Regions from separate parts of the Homo sapiens genome. Here all the other regions are linked to region 5. The links come from fine-mapping of genetic effects on plasma protein levels. Region 5 holds a variant in brackets. A gene starts in each other region. All regions are shown on their forward strands.

Region 1 (4,193 bases), not on the chromosome of region 5:
TGGGAGCAGTGGCTCACACATGTAATCCTATAACTTTGGGAGGTCAAGGGAGGCAGATCGCTTGAGTCCAGGAGTTTGAGACCAGCCTGGGTGACATGGTGAAACCGTGTCTCTACAAAAAATGCAGAAATTAGCCGGCAGTGGTGGTGCACACCTGTAGTCCCAGCTACTCAGGAGGCTGAGGTGGGAGGATTTGAGCTGCAAAGGTAGAGGTTGCAGTGAGCTGACATCACACCATTGCACTCCAGCCTGAGCAACAGAGCAAGACCTTCTCTCTCTCTCTCTCTCTCTCTATATATATATACATATATGTGTGTGCGTGTGTGTGTATGTATGTTTAGCAGCACTGTTGGACACGATGCTAGTAGTACCCACCCCCGTTTCCCTGTCATCACAATAAAGCATCTCCAGACATTGCCAAATATCCCCCGGAGGACAAAATCGTCCCTGGTTGAGAACCACGGAATTATATCAATGACCATCACAACCCTAAATGAACTAATGAACTCAACCATACATTTTCTCCACCTCTGCCCTCAACAAGTGACTGCTGCTTGAGAAATTTACACAGGAGGGCAGAAAATGGTGAGTTCATTTTTGCCCATATTAAAAAGGCCCTCAATATTGCTTACCAGTCCTACAACATTCTTCTGTCAACTTGTTGTATTACTTTCTACAATATTCCAAATCTTCTCAGCTTTCCTTTAAACTCCCAATACCACCTCCTTTTCTATCAGAAGATGACCCCATCTTCAACTTCACAGAGAAAACAAGTCAGCAAATGAGAACTTTAACTTCCTGTTACTAAACATACAGAAACATACTTCCTCTCATAATTGGGGAAATATCTCCTCTCTCTCTCTTTCTCCCTCCCTGCCCTCTTCCAAAACCATTATTCTTACCAGTGTTTCGAACTGCCTCTAAACTGCCTCTATTCTTACCCTTTCAAGATCTTTGCCTACTGACTATCCCTTCTCTTCCTTTATTCAACCATTTTTTTCTCAGTTGAATCTTCCCTACCATGCTCAAGTTTCTCCTGTCTTAATTCTAACAAAAATCAAAAAAACAAAAACAAAAAATCTTGATCCTTCATCATTCTCCCTCCTTCCTCCCTGTCAAGGCCAAACTTTCCAAAAGCATTCTACAACTTGTCCCCATCTCTACATCTCCCCCACCTCCAAACTACTAAGTTGTTTTTTTCAACCCCAGCATTCCAACAAACAGCTTTCACTGAGATAATCAGTGACCTCTGTGTTATGAAATTAAAAAAAACATTTCTCAGGCTTCATCTTCCTTGATCCCTTAGGAATAGACTACTTACTCCTTGAAGCACTTTTTTTTTTTTTTTTTGAGATGGAGTCTGGCACTGTCGCCAGTGATAGACATTATGATAGTAATGTAGCTGGGATTACAGACACCCGCCACCACACCCAGCTATTTTTTCTTTCTTTTTTTTTTTTTTTTGTAGGGGGGACGGAATTTCACTCTCGTTGCCCAGCCTGGAGTGCAATGGCATGATCTTGGCCCACTGCAACCTCCGCCTCCCAGGTTCAAGCGATTCTCCTGCCTCAGCCTCCCGACTAGCTGGGATTACAGGCGCCTGCCACCATGCCCGGCTAATTTTTTGTATTTTTAGTAGAGATGGGGTTTCTCTATGTTGGCCAGGCTGGTCTGGAACTCCTGACCTCGTGATCTGCCCGCTTCAGCCTCCCAAAGTGCTGGGATTGATTACAGGCGTGAGCCACTGTGCCTGGTGAAGCACTTTCTTTTCTTGATTTCCAGCAGTTTATTTTATTCTTAGAGGTGCATGGAGGGGTTCCTGCAGCAAATAGTTTACAATAATCCTCCATCTGCTTAAAACTCTTCAATAGCTTTCAGTGCCCCTAGTACAAAGTGGTCTAAAATTCCAAGGCCTTCCAAGATCTAGCGATTGTTGGCCTTCTAAAGCTTTCTTTCCTCTACACTCGGGGATGTACGATTAGCACTAAGCCTCTAACAAGGATGAACTACTAGAAATTTCCAGAAGGCGTTATGCTGTTCTCGACATAAGCTGTTCCCCAGAGCCTGGAAAACTCTAGCTCTTTCTCTGCCGGATTTCCGGGGGAACTCCTACTTATCCTTCATGACTCAAGTCACTTCCTCCGGGAACCCTTCCAGACACCCCTAAGAATAAAACGCTTTGTTCATTATCAGCCAAAGGCGCCTCAAATTTTCTATGTGCTATGCACTGTATTCTATCCACTATAATTTGTTTACATATCTATATCTTAGTCTAGACATATTGAAAGGCGATGAAGAGCAGGGAAAGCACTGTATTCGCTTTCTTTTCTTCAGCGTTCATCCAGCACAGTGCCTGGCATACGGTTTGCCCTCAGTAAATGTTTATTGCATGAACACCTCCCAGCTTCGGGCAGGACTGAAATCTATCCGGTTAACTAGTGAATTCCCAGACTCTCCGTCTGCGTGGCAGGGACATTTAAACCCCCAGCACCGTGATTGGCTCCAGCTGCAGGGGTGTGTCTGTGTCCGCGGCGAACGGGAAGTGAGCAGGCGCGCGGGCTCGGCGCGCGCAGGCGCGACTAGGGTGCAGCGCCAGGTCCGGTGTTGGGGTGTCCGAGTTGCCGCCGGAGAGGAGTGGCCTCGCCCGCTTGGTGAGTCTCCAGGAGTGGGACGGAGGGAGCTGGCCGGGATGAAGTCTGAGACTATGTCCTGAGAAGAAAGAGTGTATCGTATTGGTTGAAAAGTTGGTGGGGTCGGGCTTAAGCGGAGGAGGGGGCTCTCTGGCCCTTACTCGGCAGATGGGCCCGGAGAGAGGACGGGAGGTGCCGGGAGAACATCGAGGGACCAGTGGAGGAAGGGTAGCTGGATGGTAATTCTCTGGACCCTTCCTCGAAATTAAACAGAGATCACTTTCCGCCCCTCACCCTTACTGTGTTGCTGTAGTTGACATTAATAGACTGCCTGTATGGTGACCACAGTGATCAGATAGCTCTGAGATAATGGCTTGAGGAAGGACTCTGAGGTTCCTGGTATTGGATAGCCCTTGCTCTCTAGAAAGGTTCAGCCTTACCTCGCGGCATTACTGCACAAATTAGAGGATCAGGAAAAGAATGAATTTCACAATTCGGGATTGGAGTGGTGGGGGGAAAAAGTACTGTAAAGTGTAGTTTCATCTCGTCCTTTTTTTCTTCTTTAATCAGTCACCACAATGTTAGGAAAGGCAGTTGATGGTAGGAGGAAACGTAAAGACATAAAAGTGGGAGAGGAAAAAAAAGTCAAGAAGGGAGTATCATTTTGCCTTTTGCTATTTGTCATCTCCTGGAATGGGGTCTGTATTAGTGCGTTCTCACACTGCTATAAAGAAGTACCCAAGGCCGGGCTTGGTGGCTAACGCCTGTAATCCCAGCACTTTGGGAGGTCGAGGAGAGAGGATCATATGAGATCAGGAGTTCGAGACCAGCCTGGCCAACATGATGAAATCCCATCTCTACTAAAAATACAAAAATTAGCCAGGCGTGGTGGTATATGCTTGTAATCCCAGCTACTCCGGAGGCTGAGGCAGGAGAATCACTTGAACCTGGGAAACAGAGGTTGCAGTGAACCGAGATCGTGCCACTGAGCTTCAGCCTGGGAGACAGAGTCAGGCTCCAACTCAAAAAAAAACAAAAAGCAAAAGAAATACTCGAGACTGGGTAATTTATAAAGGAAGGAAGTTTAATTGACTCTCAGTTCTGCATGGCTGGGGAGGCCTCAGGAAACTTATAATCATGGTGGAAAGCAAAGGAGAAGCCAAGCACCTTCTTCACAGGATGGCAGGAGAGAGACAGTGAAGGGGAAAAAGCCCCTTATAAAACCAGTATCATGAGAACAGCATGGGGGAAACCACCCCCATAATCCAATCACCTCTCACCAGATTCGAGATGAGATTATGAATAGCCAAACTGTATCATTCTGCCCCTGGCCCCTTTCTTTCTTTCTTTCTTTTTTTTTTTTTTTGAGATGGAGTCTCACACTCTGTCACCCAGGCTGGAGTGCAGTGGCGCGATCTTGGCTTACTACAACCTCCAACACTTCAAGCGATTCTCCTCCCTCACACTCCTGAGTAGCTGAGACTACAAATGTGTGCCACCAAACCTGGCTAATTTTTTTTTTTTTTTTTTTTTTGAGATGGGGTCTTGCTCTGTCGCTCAGGC
Region 2 (4,193 bases), not on the chromosome of region 5:
CTCCCTCAAAACATTGGTCGCAAAGCCCCCCCGCCTGGTCCTCCATGCTCAAGAATAGGGTGGCAAGGCAGGAAAAGACTCACACATCCCAGCCCCCGGCCCCTCAGGGCAGCCTCTGTGTTTCTAACTAAAAGCCTCCTACCAGGGGCAAGACCAAGTTCGGGCGCTTCCCCGCATGGAGAAACGCTGGCCCCACGGCGCCCGGCCCCGACGCGCTGGCCCTTTAAAGGCGCGGGCTTCCTGCGCCCGGGGCCCCTCCCACGCCACCGCCACCGCCACCGCCACCGCCCGCGCCCGCCCCCGCCGAGGGTCACACTTGAACTTTAGCTCGCCCCGCGCGGCCAGGCGCCGGCGCTCCGCAGGCGGTGGCCGCCCCTTCGCACGTGTCGGAGGCACCACCTCGGGCTCGGGACGCCGGGCCCCCGGCACTCGAGGCCACTCCGGAGAAAACCAAAACAAAGCAAAATGCGCACCGCCTCCAGAAACTGCCCGGCAGGCCCTGCACCGTCCCCGGCCGGTCGCGCCCTGCCTGTCCCCTCCACCTGCAGCCCGGTCCCGGGGCAGCGAGGCTCCGGGGCCCCTCGCCGCGCCCTCCCCCGCCGCGCCCGGCGGAAACAGCTCCGCGGCGCGGCCGGAGAGAACCCGCCCTCCCCCCGCGGAGGTCCGGGAGGGAAGGGGCAGCCGAAGCAGTCGGCGCGGGCCGGGGGTTGCCGCTCCCAGCGAACCCCTTTCTCCTTTCACTGGCAAACTTTTCGGCCTCGCTCTGACGTCCACTTCTTGGCGCACTTTCTTTACTTAGTTCCCCAACGAGCCCCTTACCGCGTCCCACGCGAACTCCTGACTGGCGCGCACGCACACCTACTGCCGTCCCCGACCGGACCCGGGCGAGGCCACCGCGACCACCGCTTCTCGCCCGCCCTCCTGGGAACGCGCTGCCCTCCTGCTCCGCACCTTCAGGCCGAGCAAACCTGCACAGCTGCGCCCTCGCCTGACCCACCGCGCCCCCAAGGTCCGGCCGCGCGCCGAGTCCACTCACCTTCCAGCCCGCCGAGCTGTTGCTGTCACCCTTATCCTTGAAGTAGGGCACGCTCTTGACCATCCACTCGTAGATCTGCGACAGCGTGAGCCGCTTCTCCGCCGAGCTCTCGATGGCCTTGGTGATGAGGTCGGCGTAGGACAGGTTGCCCCACGCGTTGCGGCGGGACGAGCTGCTCTTGCGCGGCTGCCCCGCGAGCGGCCCAGCGGCGGCGGGGGGCACCGGCGGGTGCTGCGACAGCGGCCCGGGCGGCGGGGGCTGCGGTGGCGCTGGGTGCAGGCAGCCCGCCTCCGGGCCCTGGAAGTCCCCGCACAGCCCCCCGGTGGCGGCCGCGGCGGCCGCCGCCGCCACCGCCGCCGCCACGGAGCCGGGCGCCTGCGGGAAGTCCTCGCTCTCCTCCAGCAAGCTCAGGTTGCTCATGAAGTCGGCGCTGACAGCGGCAGCCGAGGCCGAGGGCAGGCCCGCCGCGGCGTCGGGGTTGGCAGCCGCGCTGCCCGACGGCGCCGGGCTGGAGGTGGCCGAGTTGGACTGGCTAAACTCCGGCCTGGGCAGCGGCCAGGTGCACGAGCGCGGCCGGGGCAGCGGCTCGAAGTCCGGGTCGATCTCCACCACCTGAGGCGCCTCGGCCATGGTGACCCCCGCCCCTCCCCCAGCCGCAGGAGAGCCAAGAGGGGGAGAACGCAGCACTGGGGGCGGACGGGGAGGGGGCGCGAAGGGACGGTCCGAGATTTGGGGGAACGAAGCCGGTGCGGCGAGCGGACGGAAACTGGGAGGAAGGCGCGGCGGAGTGGAAGCGCGAGCCCAGAACTTAACTTCGCGGGGCCATCCACATCGAGGCTCCTCGGGGTCCGCCGCACGGACTGGACGGCCGGCCAGAGCCGCCGGGCCGGGGCAGAGCCTGCGCCGCGCTCCAGCTGACAGGGCCGCGGACGGAAGGACGGACGGACGCCGCGGGCCGCTTGCTCTCCCCAGCGGCGCGCCCGCTGCGCTGCTGCCTGTTGAATGTGGCGGCTGCGGCAGCGGCTGCTGCGACTACCAGGCCGCCCGACTTACGGGATCTGCCGCCGCCCCCCGCCCGCGGCGGCGCGCGCGCCGGCCCGCCCCTGACCGACAGCCCGCGCGGCCAATGGGCATGCGGCACCGCCGCCCGGGCAGCCAGTGGGCGCCGGGCTGGGTGGGGCCCGGTTTTCCACGGGGAGGCGGCGGTGGGCTGGTGGGGGGTAGTGGGGTGTTTTTCTCTTTCACACACTCACCTCCTTTTTTTTTTTTTGGATCTCTATTATTTTCTGGTAATTCTCGAGTGTTTCTGTGATTCTCTCGCCTTCTCAGTGTTTTGATTGCTAGGAAGCAAACCAGCGTGGAGGCGCCGGCGACACTTTGTTTACTACGGAGCAGCAGAGCCGAGTACTCGGGAAGCCCGGGTGGGAGGAGGCGCTCGCTGCTCCCTGACCTCCGCTGCGGGCCGAGCCCGGCGGGCTGGCAGGGCAGGGGGCCGAGGGCCGGGGGCGCGGGGTGGGCGGGCGGAGGCGGCCGCGAGGAATTCTACTCAATCGCTCCCTCCTGGCTCCACCCACGATGTCTTTGCTGAACGACGTGGGGAATCGGTGGGTTTTGTTTTGGTTTAATGTTTTCTTTCGCTGCGATCTGTCAAGTCCTCCGGCCCCCTCGCGAGCGGCACACGCCCCCCACCCCCGGCGCCGCGGCTCCTGCAGTCGAGTCCGCGCCGAGGGACCCTTCTCCGTGCCCACCGGTCCGCACCCCCGGGCTCAGCCTGTGCCATTCGGTCTAGCCAGAGGCGCGTCACCCAGCCGGCAGCCCCCAGCCGGATTCACTGTATTCTTGACCTTTTTTAAAATGCTAGAAATGAGGAACAGGGGCTCCGGCGCGGGGAGGAGATTATCTGGCCTCCCTGAACACACGAATCCAAAGGCACCCGCGACCGCATGCCCTCCGTGGGAACCTCTTCCCCTGGGCGGGAATCTCCCGCTCCGTCCACTAAGTCCAGGGCCGGCAGCGAAGGGCTCAGGAGCGCAGTTAGAGAGAACCAGGTCATTTTATTACTTATCCCTAATTAAATTTAGCTGTTTGTTACTTCTTTTTTATTTGCAACGGAAGTGATCGGGTGTTAAGTAAAAACGCAAGGGGGGCGGGAGATAGGACCAAAGCCTTGGGGCGCAGCCTGCCCCACCCCCAAATTCCTTGAGGCTACTTGCTGTGTGTGTCAGTCAACCCCCCACCCACACCCCACCTTTCCTCATCTGGGCTGCAGGTCCAGGACATCCTGTCAAGGATCAGTGGGGCCAAAGGTGGGAAGATAATGGCCCTTGTGTCTCAAGCAGAAGAAACAGTTTTCCAGTTTTGTTTTGTTATGCTTTTGCTTTTTTAGGAAGAATATGGAAGGCATTTCCTTTTAGAAAGATGGGACCACTTAGGATGGAAGATGGACAGTAGGGTTTTAAATATCTTGTCCAAAAGGACAGCTTCCAACTCTTGTTTTTTAATCCCTTTCTTTCTTACAAGTAATTCTGCAATGGAAAAAGTGGCATCTAGAGAAAATTAGTCAGTTGGACAAGAGGTTGTTGAAAAAATAAAAGAGAAAAGAGGGGAAAAAAGGAAAAATTAGGCCTCTTACAAAAGTTAAAAAGATTGAGAGAGATTATCTTTCTTCTTTTATATTCTCACTATCGTCTCTCTAGTCCGGGCTCCTGTTTCTTCATAATCTATTTATCACAACAGCTTCTTGCTGATACTAGGCATGGGTGGGGTGGGGAGCGTGAGCCGGATGGATTGGGGACGGGCGGGGACTGGTTCCCACCCTGGTCTTGTGGTCTCTTCACGTTTACTATCAAATTTGGACAGTCTGGGCCTCCTCTGACAGCCGCTAGGGGACCTCAGTAACTCAGATGATGAGCTCAAAGGCAGGCCCCCAAAGTACAGCTGTTGCTTCCCCCCACCTTTCCAATTACACTCTGCAGAAGCAGCCCCCGATCCAGACAGCCGCACCCTAAAAATAGGCGGTGCCCTACTGGATCATTCTTGGCAAAGGAAGCCAGCTTCAAATTTGGCCTTGCCTTCATTTCTATTCCGGTTTTTCAGGGCGTCAGAGAATATTTATTTGGTTAAAGGAGTCTTCCTACAGACTTTCCCCAAATCCTTG
Region 3 (4,158 bases), not on the chromosome of region 5:
AACATAGACATTCTCCTGCCCCAGAGTGCAGACTTGGAGGTCATATCTGCCCAGGTGATGTGGACAGGCAAACCCCCTATTAGAGCCTCAATTTCCTCAATAGCTAATGCCTAGATCCCCTGTGGTAGGCAAGATATCCTCCTCCCTCCTCCCTCCTCCCTCCCTCCTTCCTCCTCCTCATCCTTCTCCTCCTCCTCCTTCTTCTTCTTCCTTTTTGAGATGGAGTCTCACTCTGTTGTCCAGGCTGGAGTGCAGTGGCACGATCTCAGCTCACTGCAACCTCCACCTCCAGGTTCAAGTGATTCTCCTGCTTCAGCCTCCTGAGTAGTTGGGATTGCAGGCGCCCACCACCACTCCTGGCTAATTTTTGTATTTTTAGTAGACACGGGGATTTCGCCATTTTGGCCAGGCTGGTCTCAAATTCCTGACCTTAAGTGATTCACCTGCCTCGGCCTTCCAAAGTGCTGGGATTACAGGCGTGGGCCACAGAGACCAGCCAAGGCAAGATTCTTCTGCTTGCAAGTACAACAGACCCCACTTCAAACTAGCTTGGGCAAAACTAAAAGGAAGTTTCTTGTTTGTGTAACTGACAAGCCCAGGGTTAGAACAACAGGTTCAGGTATGGCTTGGAACCAGGGTCTCAAATGATGTCTCCAGGACCCAGACTTCCTCTCGGGTCTGATTTTCTCAGCACTGCCTTTGCTCTCAAGTAAATTCTTCCCTGTCACAGCTCCCATTACATCCTCCCATTGTGGCAGCCCTAGTGAGGGCTGGAAAAAAAAGAGAATGCTTTTTCCCCCGTGGTTAAACCAATAAAAATCCCAGACCAGCGTTTCATTGGCTGGATCTTGCTCAAATGCCCGCCTCTCTGCCCAATCTTAGACTCTGGTTGGCTGGGTCTGGATCATTTGTCCACTGTAAACCAATCCCTAGCTTATGGTTTGCTGGATCTAGCACACATTTTCTTTCTTAAAAGAAAATTGAGAATGTTACCCTATGAAAGGGACGGGTGCTGGTCAGGCAGCTTTGCAGATGTTTCCCACATGACATGATTGCTTGTGGGCCTCTGGTTTAGCGTGACCTTTTTCTCAAAGGAAGTCCAGAGCCTGGAGCCGCGTCTCAGCCCCACCCAAGCCCGGGAAATGTGCAACGCTGTGGCTCCACCCCCTGTGCCTGTCCATCAAGGCAGAGCCCACATCCAATTGGTCCGTCTGCTCCATTAGAAGGCGGTCCTATAGCTCAGTAACTGACTTCTTTCTAAGACCAAATGGAGCAGCTGGCATGAAGTCATTATCAAATTGATCTTTCTTGGAGACACAGGATTTGGCAATATTTTAGGAAACAGAACTTTATCCTCACCAGATCTCGACGCTCATTTCTCAACATTCAAGTTGTCTGAAATTTAACCACATATTTTTAACCAAAACATCATCACTTTCTGCACATAAGACAGTCTTATACTTGTTTTTTCTTCTTTTCTTCTTCCTTCCTTCCTTCTTTCTTCTTTCTTCTTTTTTCTTTTTTTTTTTTTTTTTTTGACGGAGTTTTGCTCTTGTTGCCCAGGCTGGAGTGCAATGGCGCGATCTCGGCTCACTGCAACCTCCACCTCCCGGGTTCAAGTGATTCTCCTGTCTCAGCCTCCCGAGTGGCTGAGATTACAGGCGCCTGCCACCACGCCCAGTTAATTTTTGCATTTTTAGTAGAGACAGGGTTTTATCATATTGGTCAGGCTGGTGTCTCTAACTCCTGACCTCAGGTGATCCGCCCGCCTCAGACTCCCAAAGTGCTGTGATTACAGGCGTGAGCCACCACACCTGGCCAGAAAAAAATAAAAATAAAAATGTATGCCTGTAATCCCAGCACTTTGGGAGACCAAGGCTGGAGGATCAGTTGAACCCAGGAGATCAAGACCAGCCTGGACGGCATATTGAGACCCTCATCTCTACAAAAAATAAGAAAAATTAGACTGGGCCACGGTGGCTGATGCTTGTAATCCCAGCACTTTGGGAGGCCAAGGCGGGTAGATCACGTGAAGTCAGGAGTTCGAGACCAGCCTGACCAACATGGGGAAACCCCGTCTCTACTAAAAATACAAAATTAGCCGGGGGTGGTGGTGCATGCCTGTAATCCCAGCTACTTGGGAGGCTGAGGCAGGAGAATGACTTGAACCTGGGATGCGGAGGTTGCAGTGAGCTGAGATAGCGTCATTGCACTCCAGCCTGGGTGACAAGCACAAAACTCCATCTCAAAAAAGGAGAAAAATTAGCCAGGTGAAGTCGTGCCCACCTGTAATTTCAGCTACTCGGGAAGCCGAGGACGAAGGATTACTTGAGCCAGGGAGGTCAAAGCTGCAGTGAGCCATGATCACGCTGCTGCACCCCGGCCTGGGCAACAGAGTGAAACCCTGTCTCAAAAAAAAATTATTAAAAAACATTTAAAGAGACAGGGTCTTGCTATGTTGCTCACGCTGGTCTCAAACTCCTGGCCTCAAATGATCCTCCTACCTCAGCCTCCTGGGTAGCTGGGACTACAGAGCGAGCCACCATACCCAGCTACTTTGTGCCTTTTGTAACCCCAGTTTTCAAGATCAGATAAACACAAAGTGAACTAAGACACCTTCTAGACAGAGTGCGGGCATGTGAACGCATGCTTGTGTCTATTTTTCTGAGTGTCACAATGCAAATAGTATGCAAATGAGTTTGTGATGTGTGTCCGTGTGCAGACCTGTGTGTGTACATGTGTGAGAGAGAGTATCTGGGTAGATAAGCAGATGGATGGATGAGAATGAGAAACCTGGAGTTTCCAGGTGCAGAGGAAACTGTTCCTCCAGGGTTCTTTTTTGAGACAGAGTTTCCCTCTTGTCACCCATTCTGGAGTGCAATGGTGTGATCTCCGCTCACTGCAGCCTCCGCCTCCCAGGTTTAAGCGATTCTCCTGCCTCAGCCTCCTGAGTAGCTAGGATTACAGGCGCTCGCCACCACGCCCAGCTAATTTTTGTATTTTTAGTAGAGACGGGGTTTCACCATGTTAGCCAGGCTGGTTTCAAACTCCTGACCTCAGATGATCCACCCACCTCAGCCTCCCAGAGTGCTGGGATTACAGGCGTGAGCCACCGCACCCAGCCTCCTCCAGGGTTGTATAAAAGCAGGGGATTTGGGGAGGGAGGGAAGGATGTGGGTCTGTCCTCAGTCCCAGATGTGGGTGTGGCGTTCCAGTGGTTAGTTCCCGTTGCCTCACATCTGTGCTTTTCCTCCACGGGGACTTGTAGAAGTAGAAGAACTTCTTGGGGGTGGAGCTGAGGGGTGGAGCTGAGGCTGGAGGGAGGAAGGTGTGGGGGGACCCAGGGGTCCTGTCTCCAAGCCTGGTTGCTCTTACGCGAAAAGTTGGGACACTGAGGTGTCACAGCTTCTCTTTTGAAATGGAGAGGAGGTAGGAGGGTGAGGTCCATCCAGGTAGACACAGACACACACAGAGACCACAGCTTCCTGTAACATTTCCGAGTGTCGAATTCCATCTCCCGGTCTAGAGGTTTTTCTTCTTGGTCCTTCCTGAGACCTCTTGGCTCCCAAGAGCCTCTTGATCGGGGCAGGAATGAGGGTGCCCCAGGGTGCGAGAGTCGTGGATCCCTGAAAAGAGGAGGCTGCTCCCCCTCTTTCTTCCCCCCACCTCCAGATTTCCTCATCTGCCCACACCTTCCGGTGGGCGGGGACGTGTATGGACAAATTTGCGGGCTGGGGACCATGGAAGTGGAGGAAATCTACAAGCACCAGGAAGTCAAGATGCAAGCACCAGCCTTCAGGGACAAGAAACAGGGGGTCTCAGCCAAGAATCAAGGTTAGGGAACTCGAGGTGGAAGGGAGGGGTTAAGAAGGAGAGATTGGGGGGCCGGGGGCTTTTGCTCATGTCTGTAATCCTAGCACTTTGGGAGGCTGAGGCGGGAGGATTGCGTGAGCCCTGGAGGTGGAGACTGGCCTGGGCAACATAGGGAGACTCTGTCTGTAAAAAATAAAAATAAAAAAAGAAGGAGAGTTCAGATGGGAGAGGTAAGGGGTCAAAGGTGGGGGCCGGGGGCTCCTTCCCCTCCAAGATGTGTGGATGTGTGTGTGGATGTGTGTGTGGTGTGATCACTCAAACTCTCACACACCCGCTCCACTTAAC
Region 4 (4,193 bases), not on the chromosome of region 5:
GCTTCGGGGAGAGCAAGGCAGGGGGGCCAAGCCAATCAGAAAGGGGAGGGAGAAGGTGCAGGGTGACAGCCAGGCTCCTGCCATGGACAGGGAGCAGTGAGTCAGGTCTGCAGAGGTAAGAGGAGCAGCCGTGTGGGTGGGGGGTGGGGGTGGGGTGAGTCACAGCCCAGCCCTGCCCAGCCTAGGAGGAGAGGGCCAGGAGAATCCAGGCTGTTCAGGTCATGGGCAACCCCAGAGGGCCACTGGGAGAGGATGAAGTATGGGAGCCCAGGCTCAGTTTTGGAGTATGTGCTTGATTTATACAAAGTAGAGAGAGTATCCAAGGAAAGCTCCTGGGAATGAGGGAGAAGGGCAGCTGAGGAGCAGGTGGAACTAGAACAGGTGGGCATCTGTCCAACCAAATATAGTCATTCCAGGGTACAGTGCTGAGTCCTTGCTCTACTCTGGATAATCTCCTCAGGTTTGGAGGCAGGAGAGCTGGCAGGCTCTGGACTCTGCCCTGTACCTGTACTTGGCCACAGCCAAAGAGGCTGGTTGGAGGATCCTACACAGCCCTCCCCATTTGGAGTCTCCTCAGGAATGCAAGGTGCTCAGTAAGCTGCAGGTTTCCGGTAGCATTCACAGATATCCAGCATTTTAATACAGCCCCCTAGGGGCTCAGTGCTCACCATTCACAGCCTCATCTAGGGCGGCCAAGAGCTCCTCATTCCCCTCTGTTTCCCCAATCTGGAGACAGGTGGATGGAGGAGGCCAACACTGCACACTTTCTAGAGATGTGCCTGGGCATCTCCGCATGTGTTACCTCTATTTTATATATAATAGTCATTTGATATGGGAATTAGAACTGGCGCCCATTTTTACATAGTAGCTCTAGGGAAAGCATCTCAACCATTCCTTGTTCCTATCACCCAGCTTACCTAAGAAGAACGTAACAACCCCAGACAACACGTCTGATTCAATTTGCCCCGGAGTACCCAGAAGGGCAGCAACCCAGCAGGTGAGGCAATGACAAGAGAGAGAGAGTGGGACCTATATTCCAGGATCCCCCAGTGCCCATCAGGCCGATCAGCTTTTCCCCGAGGTTCTCCATGAATACCCTCAACCCACAGTATTGCCCAAACAGCAAGAATCTTGGATCTGCTTATTCTTCAACAGCCCACCAAGGTCCAAGGATGGGGGGCCTCCACACCCACCTCTCAAAAGGTCCAGATCTGCCTCTTGCAAGTCACGGACTTTCCGGTCCCGGCCGCCTCCTAGGGGTAGCAGCTGGTCCGTGGATACAGTGGGAGGGTCCGGGTTGCTGGTTCCAGCAGCTAGCCCTCTCCGAAGCCGCTCCAGGCTCTCGCCAGTCACCAGTGCCGAGAGAACTGCGGGCGAGAGGCCAGGCCGCATCAGACACCCGCCCAGACCCCTGACCAACACGCACCGATGCCGACGCCCGTCCGCCAGAGCGCAAGGGCCCCACCAAGTGGCCCGTGCCGGGTGCGCTGCGGCGACCTTCCCCCATGCCCCCAGCACAACGCCCCCATCCCCCCGATCTCCGGGGGCGTCGGCAGCCCTCTTACCTGCAGCCAGAAAGAGCTTCAGCACCACCGACGGCAGCAGCTTCATGGTCCCGCACCGAGAGGAGGCGGCGAGGCACCAGTCACTTTCGAAGCGGCGGCCACTGGGCGCTGGCACCAGAGCTGGGCGGCGGAGCTCAGGAGATTCCGCCGGGCACCGTCTGCCGCCCGCCTCTGCGTGCAAGCCTGGCCGGGACCCAGGCGCAGCTCGCTCTTCTTGAGTGTCTTGTCTTGCTCACTCAGCCCGCCCGCGCGGCCGCCCGACCCCGCGCGCCTAGGTCAGGCCAGCCAGCAGCGTGGCCCGCGTAGCTCCTTCGGCCGAATGAGCGCTGCCCGGCTCGCGGCCGGGAATAAGGCTCCAGGAGGCGCGGAAGCTCCGCCCCGCCCGGCGCCGCCCCCTCCCTCCTCCCGTGCTGGGAAGCTCGCCCGGCTCGCGGCGCCGGCAGCGCAGCCCCCGACCCCGCGGGCGCGGCGGAGGACTGGGCGGGAGGAGAGGGCGGCGTTCACAATTTTTGGGACCAGGCCGAGGCAGCCGCGGCCTGATTGTGGGTAGGGCTACTGACCGGCAGGTGGCGGAGAGCGGTTCCTACCTTTCCCCAAACGCCTGTCACTCTGCAGCCTTGTGACTGACTGCTGAGCTGAGTTCTGTTCCGGGCCTGGCCTCTTGCTTCATCTAAGCCCCATACCAGGGGTCTCCATCCCTGTCACCCTCTAAGTTTCAGAAGCCCACCTTTTGGCCTACCAACACGGCAAGTATCAAATAATAATTAATTCATCTATCATTTAAAAATTAGACACGTGAATGCCAGCCGTTCTCATAAACCCGAGATAACCAGAGTTGAAGTTGCAGGCACTTAGTATCAATCCAGCAAAAGCAAAGGAAGTTAGTACTCTCTTAGTCTCTGGAGTGGCTTCCTCCCATCTTCCCTCAGGGGACATTAGGATTTTTGAACTATGGGTTGTAATTCCCAGGCTTCTGAGATTGGAGAGACACAGGTTGTGAAACAAGCCTTATTCTTTTCCTTGCCTTTGACTGCCACCTTTTTCCTCAACATAAAAAATGAGCCACCCTCCCATAGGACCCAGCTGGCTAACCTAGATTGCTGTTTCACAGACACTAGGTGTTTCTCTTCCAACCCATGTGCTTTTGCAGGGGTCTTCTGGAGTCACTGTCCTGACCCAAAGAAATGAGTGTCTCAGTAGGTATTTCAGTTTCCAGGGACGTGCTGGGGAGAGAGTTGTTTGACACAGGGCTGGGTTGGCTTTCAGAGCCCTGAAATTGTGCCAGATAGAGCACTTGCCGGATTCTGCCTGTGTGTAGGGATAAAAACAGGCCTGCTATTTATACACAGTCTATCCCACTGTCCCTCCCTATCCCCACCTTTGCAGGGGTCAGTCTGGCCCTGCCCTCTTAACTTGCTCCAGTAACCTAGGCCTAGGTTTCCATAGTGCACTGGAATCACTACAGACCTGAGTTTGAATCCTGCCTTTGCTACTTACTGTGTGACCTTGGACAAGAAACTTAATTTCACTGAGCCTCAGTTTTGACGTCTCTCAAATGGAAAAAATAATAACAATAATAATAATGACTACTTTGTAGGGAGCTTTTTGAGAAATGAATGCGGGAACACATAAAAGTAGTTAGTATAGTGCCAGGCACACTATAAGCTCTCAATAAATGTGACCCATTATTATTGTTGCTGTTAATAATAATCACTAAGCACTTGACCACTCTATTTCCTTAGAGGCCTCTTTTCTCTCACTTCTCTAGATCGCTTGCCTTCCCCTAGGCCATATCTGAGGCTTTATGATATAGTTGGGCTGGTTTCAGACAGAAGCTCACCTGTCACCTATTTGGCTAAGAGCCACTGTTAGATTATCCTTTTGGGTGATGAGTATCGGGCCTAGGACCTCAGTGCATGGTCACCGCCCAAGCCATGACTTTGCCCTCCCTCAGCAGCTGCCTGGCCACCTGCTTCCCCAAAACAAAGCCACCTTGGGGTCAAGGCTCTCCCCAGGGGAGGGTGGAGAGAAACACTTCCTGACACATGGTCAAATCACCCCCTTTCCCCCACCCTCGCCAGAGTCACACCCTGCTCTCTTGCCCCAGCCTGCCTTTCTCCCTTCACATGCTCTGTCCTTCCGCCTTCTCACCCCCACATCAGCCTCAGTCCCATTCATGGGGCAACTCCAAACTTTCATCACACCTGGAGCCTCACCCCAGCTAGGTTTGTGTGTCAGCCAGGTTTTACAGGAAGGGCCTGAAAAAAGAAGATAAAAAGCTTGAATTGGATTTGGGACAGTCACTTCCCCTCTCAGAATCTTGGATGTCTCTGAGCAAAGAAAAGGAATCACAATTCATGCTGAGGCAATCTCATTAACTCAATTATATCATAAACATTAACTGAACATTTTTGGGGGGCACTGGGGACATAGAAATAAATAAGACAGCCCAGGACCTGCTTTCACAGAGCTTATATTCTATAGTAGACAGGCAGCACATTAAGGAAATAAACAAGGAAAAACATATCCTATAGTGATAACTGCTAAGATGAAAGTTAAAATACAATGATGTGCTGTAGGATAATATGTTCCAGTGCCCAGGATGACACTTTAAACTGATTAGCAAAG
Region 5 (4,193 bases):
GAAATGGAATTTCACTCTTGTTGCCCTGGCTGGAGTGCAATGGCGCGATCTTGGCTCACTGCAACCTCCACCTCCCAGGTTCAAGCAATTCTCCTGCCTCAGCCTCCTGAGTAGCTAGGATTACAGGCATGTGCCACCACGCCTGTCTAATTTTGTATTTTTAGTAGAGACGGGGTCTCACCATGTTGGTCAGACTGGTCTCGAACTCCCAGCCTCAGGTGATCCACCCGCCTCGGCTTCCCAAAGTGCTGGGATTGCAGGCATGAGCCATCACCCCGGCCAGTTTCTGTCTTAGACGTCTCTCTTGATTTTTATGAATTGACATGATTTCTTGTTTGGTTGTGAATGCACACTGCCCTAGTTTTCAATAAGCCCATCATACATTTTCACCAGGTCCTCTATAGGTGCTTTTTCTATAGTGTTAACATCATCATCTTCACTGTCACTGTTATCACGATCACCTTGGTTCAGAACCAACTCAGATATTTCACCCTCAGTTAGTGAAGGAACAAGGCTCATTAAAAACGTCTTGAATATCCACTTCTTCCAGCTCTGACACAGACTACATATATATATGTATATATATGTATATATGTATATATGTATATATGTACATATGTATATATGTATATATGTACATATGTATATGTGTATATATGTATATATATGTATATGTGTATATATGTATATGTATGTATATTGTGTATATATGTGTATATATGTATATATATGTATATATATGTATATATGTATATATATGCATATACGTATATATGTATATATGTATATATGTATATATATGTATATATGTATATATATGTATATATGTATATATACGTATATATGTATATATGTATATATACGTATATATGTATATATGTATATATACGTATATATGTATATATGTATATATGTGTATATACGTATATATGTATATGTATGTATATGTGTGTATATATGTGTATATATGTATATATGTATATATGTGTATATATGTATATATGTATATATGTATGTGTGTGTATATATGTATATATGTATATGTATGTATATGTGTGTATATATGTATATGTATGTATATATGTGTATATATGTATGTATATATGTATATATGTATGTATATATGTATATATGTGTATATATATACACACACACACACACATATATATATATATATATTTTTTTTTTTTTGAGACGGAGTCATGCTCTGTCGCCCAAGCCGGAGTGCAGTGGAGCGATCTCGGCTCACTGCAACCTCCACCTCCTGGGTTCAAGCGATTCTCCTGCCTCAGCCTCCCAGGTAGCTGAGACTACAGGCATGTGCCACCACGCCCAGCTAATTTTTTTGTATTTTTAGTAGAGATGGGGTTTCACCATGTTGGCCAGGCTGGTCTCGAACTCCTGACCTCAGGCGATCCACCTGCCTTGGCCTCCCAAAGTGCTGGGATTACAGGCGTGAGCCACCGCACCCAGCCGACACAAACATTTTTGATGAAAATTTCAGCTGGGGAATGAGCAAAATCGGTATCAAGGAATAACAAAATCTTACAGTCCTCATTCAGTTTAGTTTCTTTGCAGTGAGCACATGCCACTAGTACAAAATGTTTGTGAAAACAATTAGAAAAGCTGTCCCTGATGATCCCTGCCTTTTTGTTAGCAGAACAATGGACTGGTAAAAAATTCACTCCTTGAAAACAGCAAGCTTTTTCACCTGCCTGTCACAGTAAGTTTACATTTATGTGTGCCTGCTGCATGAGCACATTGCAACATAGTTATTCTGTCCTTGGCATCCCTAATTCCTGTAGGGGCTGTCTCACCAGCTGTAGTCAATGTATTTCTGGGGTAATAACAGCAAAACAATAATGTTTCATCAGCATTATAGACTTGTTCTGCTGTCAGATTTTCATCAGCAATGACCTTGGCACACTAGTTAATTTCTCTGCTGCTTCATGATCACCACGAATCTTTAAAAAAATTTAATGCTGTGTCTTCTCTTAAATCTGCACCTAGCCTGCTGAATATTCACAGTTCCCTTCAATATTCAGTTCATCGTGATAGATCTTTGCTTGTCTCATGATAAGCAGGCCATTAAGTGGCATATGCTCACTGCAATGCTAATGGATGCACTCTTTCAATACATGATCAAGATCTTCATTTTCAGCTTTGCAGTGTTTTTCTATTTTTCATTAACTTCTATCCATCACTTTTAGCACAGAAGTTCAACAGTTTATCCATCTGTTTCTTCAGGTCACATATGGTGGTCATTCCAACACCATACTGTTCTGTAAGGCATTTCACACTTCCACCGCCATCCAATTTTTCCAACAGCATGACTTTCTGTGCTATAGATAAACATAAGTGCTTCTTTTTTTTCTTATCACTGTTACCCATAGGGGTATCTTTTTGGCATTTCCAACAATATCTTTAAACACAGAGCAGAGAATAAGCAAAAAAAAAAAAAA[A/C]CACAGTGAGTAATGCACATAGGTCTTGGCCCTATATGGGGCATTGTGGGGAACCTGCCATTGGTGCATCCAGCTGCATATGTACAATTTTATTACCCTTTACAGGCACGCTTGTTGGGGGGTAATCTGGGCATGCACAGAAAAGATATACCACAGCTGAAAGGGGCCGGGAGGGTCTTTTTTTCTGTTGGGGATGCTGAATAAACCATGTTGTGCAACTGCATTTTGACTGCAACCTATCACATGAGGTCAGGTGTGGAATGTTCCATTTCTGGCATCATGTGAGCACTCGAAAAGTTTCAGATTTTGGAGCATTTTCAAGTTTGGATTTTCAGGTTAGGGATGCTCAACCTGTAATTGATTTCTGTCATCTAATCATAGTAGTTAACACCTCCAATACAATGTTGAAAAGTAGTGGATAGTGAACATCCTTGCCTTATTTCCAATGCTAGAATTCCCTATAGTGTATCCCCATTAAATAAGAAACTAATTTTAGGAATAACATTCAATTATGTTAAGAACGTATTTTTTAATTCCTATCTTCCTGAGTGCTTTATGACGAATGTATGTGGATTTTTTTCCAAAGGCTTTCTCTGCTTTTAAGGAGGTAATAATATTATCTTTTTTCTTTTTTCGAGACGGAGTCTCGCTCTGTCGCCCAGGCTGGAGTGCAGTGGCTCAATCTCGGCTCACTGCCAGCTCTGCCTCCCGGGTTCATGCCATTCTCCTGCCTCAGCCTCCCGAGTAGCTGGGACTACAGGCGCCCACCACCAGGCCTGGCTAATTTTTTGTATTTTTAGTAGAGACGGGGTTTCACCGTGTTAGCAGGATGGTCTTGATCGTGATCCGCCTGTCTTGGCCTCCAAAAGTGCTGGGATTACAGTCGTGAGGCACCGCGCCCGACTGTTTTTTTTTTTGTTTTTTTTTTTTTTTTTTTTTTTTGAGAGGAGTCTTGCTCTGTCTCCCAGGCTGGACTGCAGTGGTGCAATCTCGGCTTACTGCAAGCTCCGCCTCCCGGGTTCACGCCATTCTCCCGCCTCAGCCTCCCGGGTAGCTGGGACTACAGGCGCCCACCACCACACCTGGCTAAATTTTTGTATTTTTAGTAGAAACGGGGTTTTAGTAGTTTTAGTAGAGACAGGGTTTCACCGTATTAGCCAGGATGGTCTCGATCTCCTGACCTCGTGATCTGCCCGCCTCAGCCTCCCAAAGTGCTGGGATTACAGGTGTGAGCCACCATGCCCGGCCAGCCAGGCTGGTCTTGAACTCCTGACCTCAGGTGATCCGCCTGCCTCAGCCTCCCAAAGTTCTAGGATTACAGGCTTGAGCCACAGTGCCTGGCCTATATAATTTTTAAAAAGCAATATGGACAAAAGAATAAGACCCAGAGGGGATACACACACATACACACACAAAAGGGTAGTCTCTAATTGGTAGGTGTCTAGTACATAGGGTCTATGGTTCAATCTGTCCCTTTTGGTATAAATTAGCATGCCAAGATACAGTTTGAGTCAGCCAATCCTCAAGAATTACATTTTTATCTGAGGTACATTTTAGAATCTAATGTAGTGTCATTAGACACATGTGCAAATTTTTTTTTTTTTGAGATGGAGTCTTGCTCTGTCACCCAAGCTGAAGTGCAAGGCATGAGCTCGGCTCACTGCAACCTTTGCCTCTTGGATTCAAGCCATTCTCCTGCCTCAGCCTCCTGAGTAGCTGGGATTACAGGTG
Region 6 (4,167 bases), not on the chromosome of region 5:
ATGTTTGTGACAAGGAATCCTTCCACAATGGAACATGGCATGTCTCTCCCATTTACTTAGAACTTCTTTAACATCTTTCTATAAAGTTTTATTATTTTTCACATAAAGATCTTGCATATCTTTTGTCAGATTTATCCGTAAGTTTTTGTTCTTTTGAACACAGTATCTTTTTTGAATATTATCTTTCATGACCTTTTATTGCTAGTCTATAGAAATGCTCCATTAGTTCCTTTTTTAAACAGATAGATTTCAACTACTCAAGACTGAGACGGGAGTAGATGTGTCAACACGCACTTGGTAAATTAGATATTCGGAACAGACATTCAGCAGTAGACAATGGCATGGCCGTACTGATTACAAAATTCTTGAAATACTTCCATAATGGGGCCCCTTGATTTCTTTCCTGTCACGCTGGCCATACTGACCTCTCTCCGGGGACAGGCTCAGATCTCTCCAAGGTCCAGACGCCACTGTATTAACACCAGGCGTGGCACGGGGCCGCAAGCCTTGCTCCACTAGGAAGGCCAGTGTCTGTTCCGGGTGTTTGATTCTCATGCCTTGTGAGTTGTTAAATATCTTTAATATTACTCCTTAGGTTCGTATGTTGGTAGTAGCTAAACACCAAGGGTGAAATATTAATCTGAGTGAATTCTCAACAAGAGATGATCAGTTTTGGGGTTCAAGGAGGGAGTCGGGAGATCTGAGATGTAACTAAGGAGATTCTATTCAGCACTGGCCTCTGATAATCCCCCCTCCCCTGAAATCCCTGCAGCTTCACCACACTCCTCTTGAAGCTCCTGCAGGCACTTCAAACGCAACACGTTTTAGATTGAACACATTATCTCTGTCTGCTAAATCAGCTCTCTCTCTGCCTCCCCTAATTAGTGGAAGAGCTTCTCCAATGATCTTATCCCCTATGGTAGAAAATTCAAAATCATCCTAGACTGTGCCTCACCCTTATGTCCTCTTTTTTTTATCACATACCAAGATCTGACAATTCTATTCCATGAAAAAAATCTTTTGAGTCTGACCTCTTCTCCAATCCCATTGCAGCTGTCTCCTAAGTTTTGGAATAGTTTCCTAAATGGTCTCTTGGCCTCTGTATTCGTCTGTTTTCACACTGCTGTGAAGAAATACCTAAGACTGGGTAATTTATAAAGGAAAAAGGTTTAATTAACTCACAGTTCTGCATGCCTAGAGAGGCCTCAGGAAACTTACAGTCATGGCATAAAGGGAAGCAAACACGTCCTTCATAAGGCGGCAGGAGAGAGAAGTATGAGGAACCAAGTGGGAAGAGCCCCTTATAAAACCATCAGCTCTCACGAGAACTCACTCACTATCATGAGAACAGCATGAATGAAACTGTCCCTATGATCCAATCTCCTCCCACCAGCTCTCTCCCTAAACGCATGGGGATTATGGGGATTACAATTAGAGATGAGATTTATGCGGGGACACAAAGCAAAACCATATCAACCCCCAACCTCTTTTGCCCCTCCAACACTGCTCTTGGCATTCCAGTTCCTGCCTGGTCCATAGCCTACTCCTTCTTCATCTGTGGAAGGGAGGGTAGTGGGAGTCATTAGCCTGGGCAGGGAGGAGTGTTTTATCACTACACTGTTTAGAATGGTGCCAATACAAAGCACATCAACTTTCAGCAAGTTTATTATTGGGTTTAAATTCTCTACACACGATGCACTGCTTTTGCCTACACCTGGACAGTGTTCCCACTCACTCTCCTTAGTATGATGCTGGAGATAATATGATCTGCCATGAAGGTTAAATAAAGCAATGTTCACTGAGAACTTAGCCCAGGCCCCTGCACATGCTGAGCATTTTGTTAATGTAACAATGATTAGTAATAGCATTGCTATTGGTTCCCCATCTCTGGCAAAGCCTTTCATGCTTGGCCTCCCTCACTCTCTTTCACCTTCCTAAACCCTACACTCCAGCTATGCCAAACTGTTTACTCTGCCTTGGACACACCAAGTTCCTCAAGCCTTTGCAAATACTCCTTACGCTCCTAGAACAATGGATGTCAATTCATCATTTAGGATCCAGCTTACAGTCATGCTTTCCATGAAGCCTTCCTCAAATTAGCCACACAAAAGGAGTGACTCCTCCCTGTATTCCCATGACCCTCTGCTCATGCCTCCTCTTTAAAGCCTGCCTTCACTGGAGTTCCTGGAAGGGAGAGTCTGTTCAGCACTCATCTCTGTATCCACAGTCACCAAAATTGTAACTGCCCCATAATAAATTCCCAATACTTGCAGGGATTTTGCTTCTTGGCTTGTTTTGTTTTGCTGGAATGAATGAATAAGTAAATGGGAACGATTTTGACTTCACCCTAAGCCTAGCTAAAAGTTTGGGTAGTGACAGTTTTGGTTATTTTGTGTAACCTGATAGTGGATCCCCTTTCTATGCCAAAAAAAAAAAAAATCCCCCAATACTAGAGTACCTGTTTTCCTAGGGAATTGACCTCAGCAACTGAAGGAGAGGCGATTCAAAGCAGGGAGTGTGATGAATAGGTCAACTCTGTCCTCGCAGCCGTCCCTGAGAGGGCGCTGTTCCCAAATCGAAGCCCCAGAGGCGGAGACTGAGACACCGGCACTCTCCCACTGGACTGGGTCAGCATCCCTCTCCCCGCGCGGCCGCAGGTCTAGAGCTGAGCGCCTGCCCACAAACATGGCGGCGCCCTGCGCGGCTTCCCGTCGCCGCAACCGTGGGGCCGGCCCTGCCTTGCCAGTACTAGGGGACTTCCTCTGCGCGCCGGCTTCCTGCCCAGCTGGCATTTAAACCACCGCCTGGGGCTGCAGGATGCTGCTGCGGATGCAGAGCTGTCCGCGGGCTGGGCAGCGTCGCCGTCTCCCCTGAGCCGCCTCGGTCCGGCAGGAGCGGAGCCGAAGCATCCCTTGCTGCACGCAGGGCAGAGCAGGCGAGGGCTGGGGGCCGATCGGGGACCCCGGCTTGGGACCCCGGCATCTGGCAGTTTCCTTGCAGGTTCAACTTTAATTGCCAAGATTTCACCCCTCCTCCTCAAGCCCAGATTATTTATCCTCCCTCCGGCCTGGGCTGCTGGATGCAGCAGCGGCTGGGCTTGGTCCCAGGAGCAGGGAGAGTGCGCTCCCGGCCCTCCTAGCCGCGTGCCCGGGCCATGGTGCGGCTGAGCCCCGCGCTTGGGTGAGGCGGCGGCGCGGCTCGGAGCCCGGCGGACCGGTCCTACGGGACATCTTCCCCTGAGGAGGAGTCTTCCCCTGGGGCTGCGTGCCGGGGGCGAGCGGCGGCCGCGATGTTCAGCTGGCTGGGTACGGACGACCGCCGGAGGAAGGACCCCGAGGTTTTCCAGACGGTGAGTGAGGGGCTCAAGAAACTCTACAAGAGCAAGCTGCTGCCCTTGGAAGAGCATTACCGCTTCCACGAGTTCCACTCGCCCGCCCTGGAGGATGCCGACTTCGACAACAAGCCCATGGTTCTGCTGGTGGGCCAGTACTCCACTGGGAAGACCACCTTCATCAGGTGAGCCGGCCCAGGGTCCTGGCAGCCCACCCCGGAGCCCAGCGCCTAGTCCCTCCGGTCACTCCTGGTGCTCCATCCCAGACAGGGGACCAATGGGAAGCCTTCAGTTGAGGGCTCTGAAGAGATCTGTGTTTGTGCAGGCGTCAAAATCTTACCCCACAATTTTTGCTGGTCCCCCTTCCCATCCTACCCAATACCTGTCCACTCTACTTGGCCCTTGGCTGTGGTGGTCAACCTGAAGTATTCAAGTGTAAAGCCATTCCCAGTCTCCCCATCTTATGGATGATGAAACCGAGGCCCAGGAGGCACAATGGAAGAGCTCCTGGTCTCTGGAGCGCCTTATGTTGGTGGGGATGTCTTACGTCTTCACTTTTTAGCAACACATCATTCACGGGCAAAACCTCTTCCCTTGTTTTTCAAGGGGCTTGGCACTCACATGGGGGCCTCACAGTTGCAGCTGAGTTCTGATGGGTGCGGGCCTGGGAACGGAGGTGGCCTGGGGATGCTACTTGTCCTCCTTTTATCATTTCCTTCTCTAAAGCAGAGCTCCTGTGTATATATCTTGGAGACTCAACAGAAGCTGAGTCCAGAAGCAGAATGCTTTTTTTTTCCCCTTTCTCTTATTTGATCTTAATGGCTTAATAATAATAT
Region 7 (4,193 bases), not on the chromosome of region 5:
CTTAAGCATCAACGTTTGCATATAATGGTAGGTATTTTTAGTGAGCACTAACTCGGTACTAGGCACTCTACTAAGCACTTTCATTATTTTCCTATGCGCTGGATACTATTATTATCCCTGTTTTACGTATGAGGAAATTGAGACAGATTAAATAACTTGTCCAGGAATTCACACACAGACAGTTTAAATCTTAACCCCTGATAACATGATGAAGTATTTGTTTCTTTTTTTTTTTTTTTTGAGACGGAGTTTCGCTCTGTCGCCCAGGCTGGAGTGCAGTGGCGCGATCTCGACTCACTGCAAGCTCCGCCTCCCGGGTTCACGCCATTCTCCTGCCTCAGCCTCCCGTGTAGCTGGGACTACAGGCGCGCGCCACCATGCCCGGCTAATTTTTGTATTTTTAGTAGAGACGGGGTTTCACTGTGTTATCCAGGATGGTCTCGATCTCCTGACCTCGTGATCCGCTCGTCTCGGCCTCCCAAAGTGCTGGGATTACAGGCGTGAGCCACCGCGCCCGGCCGAAGTATTTGTTTCTAACAAGAGCATTCTGGACATTAAAGGGCCTTAGAGTATGAGAGAAAAAAGCCAGAAAAAAAAAAGGAATAGTAATAATAATTTTTTAAAAAGTAGAAATAAAAAGGTAAGGAGTTAACATCCATTAGATTCCATTTTCTATTCAAATATGTATATTTACATACAGTACTGCTGAATTGACTCACAGTTCTTAGGTCCTATAGAGGAGTGCAGTGAAAAGGAAGACAATTTACACAGTACAGAGCTGAACATAGGACTTACAAACAAAAAAAAAGTCAAGGAATACAAAGTAGCTTTCCCAGGTGTAAAGTACCGGGTCTAGAATTCTATGAGGCTAGGGAGAAGATAAACGACAAAAGCTATAAGAGATCAGAATGAAAAGAGATCCACAAGCCTAAGAAGCCCAGGCCCTTGAGGAGAACCATGAATTTGAGCAGGATTTCACTAATTCCTTTAAAAAGTAGCCATTGCCTCAAAGTACGACTCCATCAGCATAGGCAGGAAAGTGGGAGTGAGGAAAGGCTTAGAGTTTTCCAGCCTGGCTGGGGTCAGACAATTTGCCTGGGGAAATAGTGGGAGCTGAGGTTGAAAAGACCGATTGGCTTCACGTTTGTGGCAGGCCTTGTCCAAAAAGCAATAGGAAGTCGTTGAAAGGTTTTGTGCAGGGGAGCGACAGGATTAAGGCACTACTTAGTAGGAAGTCATATCAAAAGCAGCAACCTGACAAATGGCAAATACGACAGAAGGAAAAAAAATAACAGGAATTTTCTTCACAATGACTCGACTTTGAGGTAATAAATGCCTGAGCCACATTGGAAGCAGGGGTCTCAGAAGGAAGGCGCAGATGGGAAAGGCTTTTCTGGGCGGTGGCGTTTCAATGCAAGGAGGGCGCTTGAATCACTGACAGACTTCAAGTTAAGGGAGTTTTCGTGGCTGAGGTTAGTAAGTCACACGCACAGCTCTCCAAAGGCATGTATGGGGAACGCCAGCCTTGGCTAAAAGACTGATTCAAGTTATGTCCGTCACCCTGAGCAACCAAAACCACCCACTACAGGGCAGGTGACCCCACAAAGCAAACCAAGCCATCTGGTCCACGCTCCCCACCTCCCGGAGGGAGATGGAAAAGTTTCGGGAGTAGTCCCCGGCCAATCGGAAAGACATTTTTTCATTCCTCAACCACTACTCTCAGGTGCTCCAGGGAGGGAGGATGACTTCCTGACGGTCCTCCTGCCGCTCCTCCCTCGGGCCAATTATGAAACTCTGGGCACTCTTGACCTCACCCCGTTAGGGCCCGGGAGGGGCTCCCTAGTATAAAGTTCGCAGCACCAGACAGTTGAGCTCACTTGCCTGATATTTCCAGTGTCAGAGGGACACAGCCAACGTGGGGTCCCTTCTAGGCTGACAGCCGCTCTCCAGCCACTGCCGCGAGCCCGTCTGCTCCCGCCCTGCCCGTGCACTCTCCGCAGCCGCCCTCCGCCAAGCCCCAGCGCCCGCTCCCATCGCCGATGACCGCGGGGAGGAGGATGGAGATGCTCTGTGCCGGCAGGGTCCCTGCGCTGCTGCTCTGCCTGGGTAAGTTCTCCCCCTCTGGCTTCCGGCCGCCCCAAAGAGGAGACAAATAAGGAAGGCTCCTGTGCATTTGTCATTCGACAAGTACGGAGTTGTCTCCAGGTTCAAGTGTGCTCTATTTAAAATTACGTCTTGTTTTGTGAGTCTGTCTTCCCCTATGGTGGGACTGGGGTGGGGGGGACTGGGGATCGATGTTAAAATGCTTTTTATTGGTGAATTAATTATTGGCATATATGTTATGCATGGATTGAAATATCTCCTTATTAAACAAAATAAAAAGTTGTTGAAAAAGCTTTTTTTTTTTTTTTGAAAAGTTGCCAGTCCTAGAAATCTAAAGGCCTGGAACGCACTGTTAACATTTCATGTCTTGTTCCTTTTTGTTGGAGAGTGGGGAATAGAAACTAGCGTAAGAAATTTTTTGGAGGGGGGAAAAAGCTTTTCTCCTCTGTCTTGCGCTCAGTTTTCTAAAACCTAGCCTGGTTTAGCTTTCCCGGAGGAGCTGGTATGCGCCAGTGCCAGTTGGCTGAGCTCCAGACACAAGAGAAATAAAACACTGGTCGAGGGTATCTGGAGCAGAAGGGCCCTGGGCAGGTCCTGGCGCTCCCCACCGCCCTTCGCCCCTACACCTGCTGCTTGCGTTTTTCCCTGCAGCCTCCCAAGCAGCCTCTGGAGCAAGCGTTCTGCACTTGCTGCTAATTGCACTCCATAGCCTGTGATCGCTGAGGGTATTTAAATGCCAGTCTTCCTATTTGAGATGATTTAGTTCAAGGGGAAAAATTTTCTAAATAGCCTTTCTGTTAAAAAAAAATTACTTCTTTCCAATTCCTTAAACTTCAGTTTAAGGAATTTGAAAGAGTTTGAAGTCGTATATGAATATCTTAATAAAAAAATAAAAGTTACCACCAGTCTCATATTCTCCCTGGAGTTGGAATGAGGCTGATTCCCCAGACACTCTAACTCTACCTGTGAAGGATGTGACTGTTAAATTATTATTTTGGCACACCTTATCTCAGGGGTTGAGAGACCTAATGAAATGCATACTATGCATAATTGAAACTTACAAGTCTAAGTCCAGGAACACAAGTGGAAACTAGATATGTGGTTTCTGCCAAAACTGAGCTAAGAAAGACTTGCTAGAAGATTCTCAGTAAACAATGTGGCTTTGCTGTCTTTGTTTTGAAAAGAATTAAATTAGAAAGGTGACAGTCTTCCTAGAGTTAGAAATTAACCTCGAGGTCAGAATAACTTAGCACTTATTATTTTCCCCACATGTAAGGTTGCATCTGAACAATGCACATGTCTGTTCTGGGTGTTTCATTGAATATTCTAATTTGAGACAGCCAGAGCCTGTGAATAACCTGGTTACTACCCACTAGTGTGTGTGTTGTGTGTGTGTTTGTTGTCATGAAAGTGCTTACCTCCTTCATTGCATTACTTAATTATAGTTCATCTATTTCGTCAGCTGCCAAGCCCATTTCCAAATGAGTTAGGTCAGTTTCTGTTTTCCCAGTTTGTTTGGATATTTCTCTGCCACTAGGAAAGTTCCTGTTTCAAGTTCTGTATTATATCTCTAAACTCTATTCAGTTATGCAGAGCCCATAGCCTTATTTTGGCAAGACCACCTGTTATTTCTGAAATTGCCTTCTTTCCCCCAAACAAAATATTTCCTAAAAATACTTTTCCCAAATCTTGTCCTTCCCCCAGCAAAAAAGAGCGAGACATTTATTTTAAATTTTAGCATACATGTTATAACTGCTTTATGTAGTTATGACTAGGGAATAAAGTTCCAGCCTCCACCCTTAACACATACAGATTTAAATTGCTATGCACAATCATTTGGTTACTTTTAAATTTTACACTTGTTTAATATTGAGGCTCTTGTTTTATAAATTGGGGAACTGTGACCCAAGTTCACATAGAAAAATAGTGACAAAGTGAGAGTCCACACTTGGGCTTGCTAGCATTTTTGGCCTACTGAACATTAAGTAGAAGAGTTGAAATACCGGATAACATTTTTTTAAATAATCTATAATTTTAGAGCAGAATTTTGTCTTTTTTATCTTGTGATTTTTCTAAAGAGAGGAGGATAA

Direction of the effects. Alleles are on the strand shown, and positions count from the first base shown. The strength of an association depends on the size of the effect and on how common the allele is.
With allele A in place of C in region 5, the plasma level of the protein whose gene starts at base 2,572 in region 1 is higher (weak association).
In carriers of allele C in region 5, the plasma level of the protein whose gene starts at base 2,095 in region 2 tends to be lower than with A alone (moderate association).
For the plasma level of the protein whose gene starts at base 3,749 in region 3, C is the high allele of the variant in region 5 and A is the other (moderate association).
For the plasma level of the protein whose gene starts at base 1,886 in region 4, A is the high allele of the variant in region 5 and C is the other (moderate association).
For the plasma level of the protein whose gene starts at base 2,820 in region 6, allele A in region 5 goes with a higher level than allele C (weak association).
In carriers of allele C in region 5, the plasma level of the protein whose gene starts at base 1,876 in region 7 tends to be lower than with A alone (moderate association).

What was found. PIP is the posterior inclusion probability: the model's chance that the variant is causal. The UK Biobank Pharma Proteomics Project read protein levels with antibody pairs (Olink). The fine-mapping took linkage between variants from a reference panel, not from the people measured, so its PIPs are less certain.
Region 1: it holds the start of SNAP23, and the variant in region 5 is fine-mapped to the plasma level of the SNAP23 protein (UK Biobank, PIP 0.96).
Region 2: it holds the start of FOXO1, and the variant in region 5 is fine-mapped to the plasma level of the FOXO1 protein (UK Biobank, PIP above 0.99).
Region 3: it holds the start of MCEMP1, and the variant in region 5 is fine-mapped to the plasma level of the MCEMP1 protein (UK Biobank, PIP above 0.99).
Region 4: it holds the start of HBEGF, and the variant in region 5 is fine-mapped to the plasma level of the HBEGF protein (UK Biobank, PIP 0.95).
Region 6: EHD3 starts here. The variant in region 5 is fine-mapped to the plasma level of the EHD3 protein (UK Biobank, PIP 0.96).
Region 7: it holds the start of EREG, and the variant in region 5 is fine-mapped to the plasma level of the EREG protein (UK Biobank, PIP above 0.99).

Annotation. Positions count from the first base shown.
Region 1 is chr15:42,493,063-42,497,255 of GRCh38, forward strand. It overlaps SNAP23 (synaptosome associated protein 23), which reads left to right and starts at 2,572. Exons shown (of 8, transcript NM_003825.4): 1 at 2,572-2,651. RefSeq lists enhancers at 2,245-2,788, 2,789-3,332.
Region 2 is chr13:40,664,547-40,668,739 of GRCh38, forward strand. It overlaps FOXO1 (forkhead box O1), which reads right to left and starts at 2,095. Exons shown (of 3, transcript NM_002015.4): 1 at 1,037-2,095. The coding sequence starts at 1,666. RefSeq lists silencers at 214-723, 1,244-1,293, 1,384-1,523, 1,754-2,283 and an enhancer at 2,934-2,983.
Region 3 is chr19:7,673,342-7,677,499 of GRCh38, forward strand. It overlaps MCEMP1 (mast cell expressed membrane protein 1), which reads left to right and starts at 3,749. Exons shown (of 7, transcript NM_174918.3): 1 at 3,749-3,834. The coding sequence starts at 3,780.
Region 4 is chr5:140,344,718-140,348,910 of GRCh38, forward strand. It overlaps HBEGF (heparin binding EGF like growth factor), which reads right to left and starts at 1,886. Exons shown (of 6, transcript NM_001945.3): 1 at 1,566-1,886; 2 at 1,194-1,367. The coding sequence starts at 1,611. RefSeq lists silencers at 1,801-2,080, 2,121-2,170.
Region 5 is chr9:96,428,175-96,432,367 of GRCh38, forward strand. No RefSeq gene overlaps it. Among named protein-coding and RNA genes, the nearest start is that of ZNF367, 12 kb to the left of the region's middle. The variant A/C (reference allele first, on the strand shown) is at 2,463.
Region 6 is chr2:31,231,333-31,235,499 of GRCh38, forward strand. EHD3 (EH domain containing 3) reads left to right here and starts at 2,820. Exons shown (of 6, transcript NM_014600.3): 1 at 2,820-3,516. The coding sequence starts at 3,290. It also overlaps a transcript of CAPN14 not described here.
Region 7 is chr4:74,363,270-74,367,462 of GRCh38, forward strand. It overlaps EREG (epiregulin), which reads left to right and starts at 1,876. Exons shown (of 5, transcript NM_001432.3): 1 at 1,876-2,106. The coding sequence starts at 2,040. LOC105377276 (a long non-coding RNA gene) reads right to left here and starts at 2,072. Exons shown (of 3, transcript NR_188415.1): 1 at 1,882-2,072.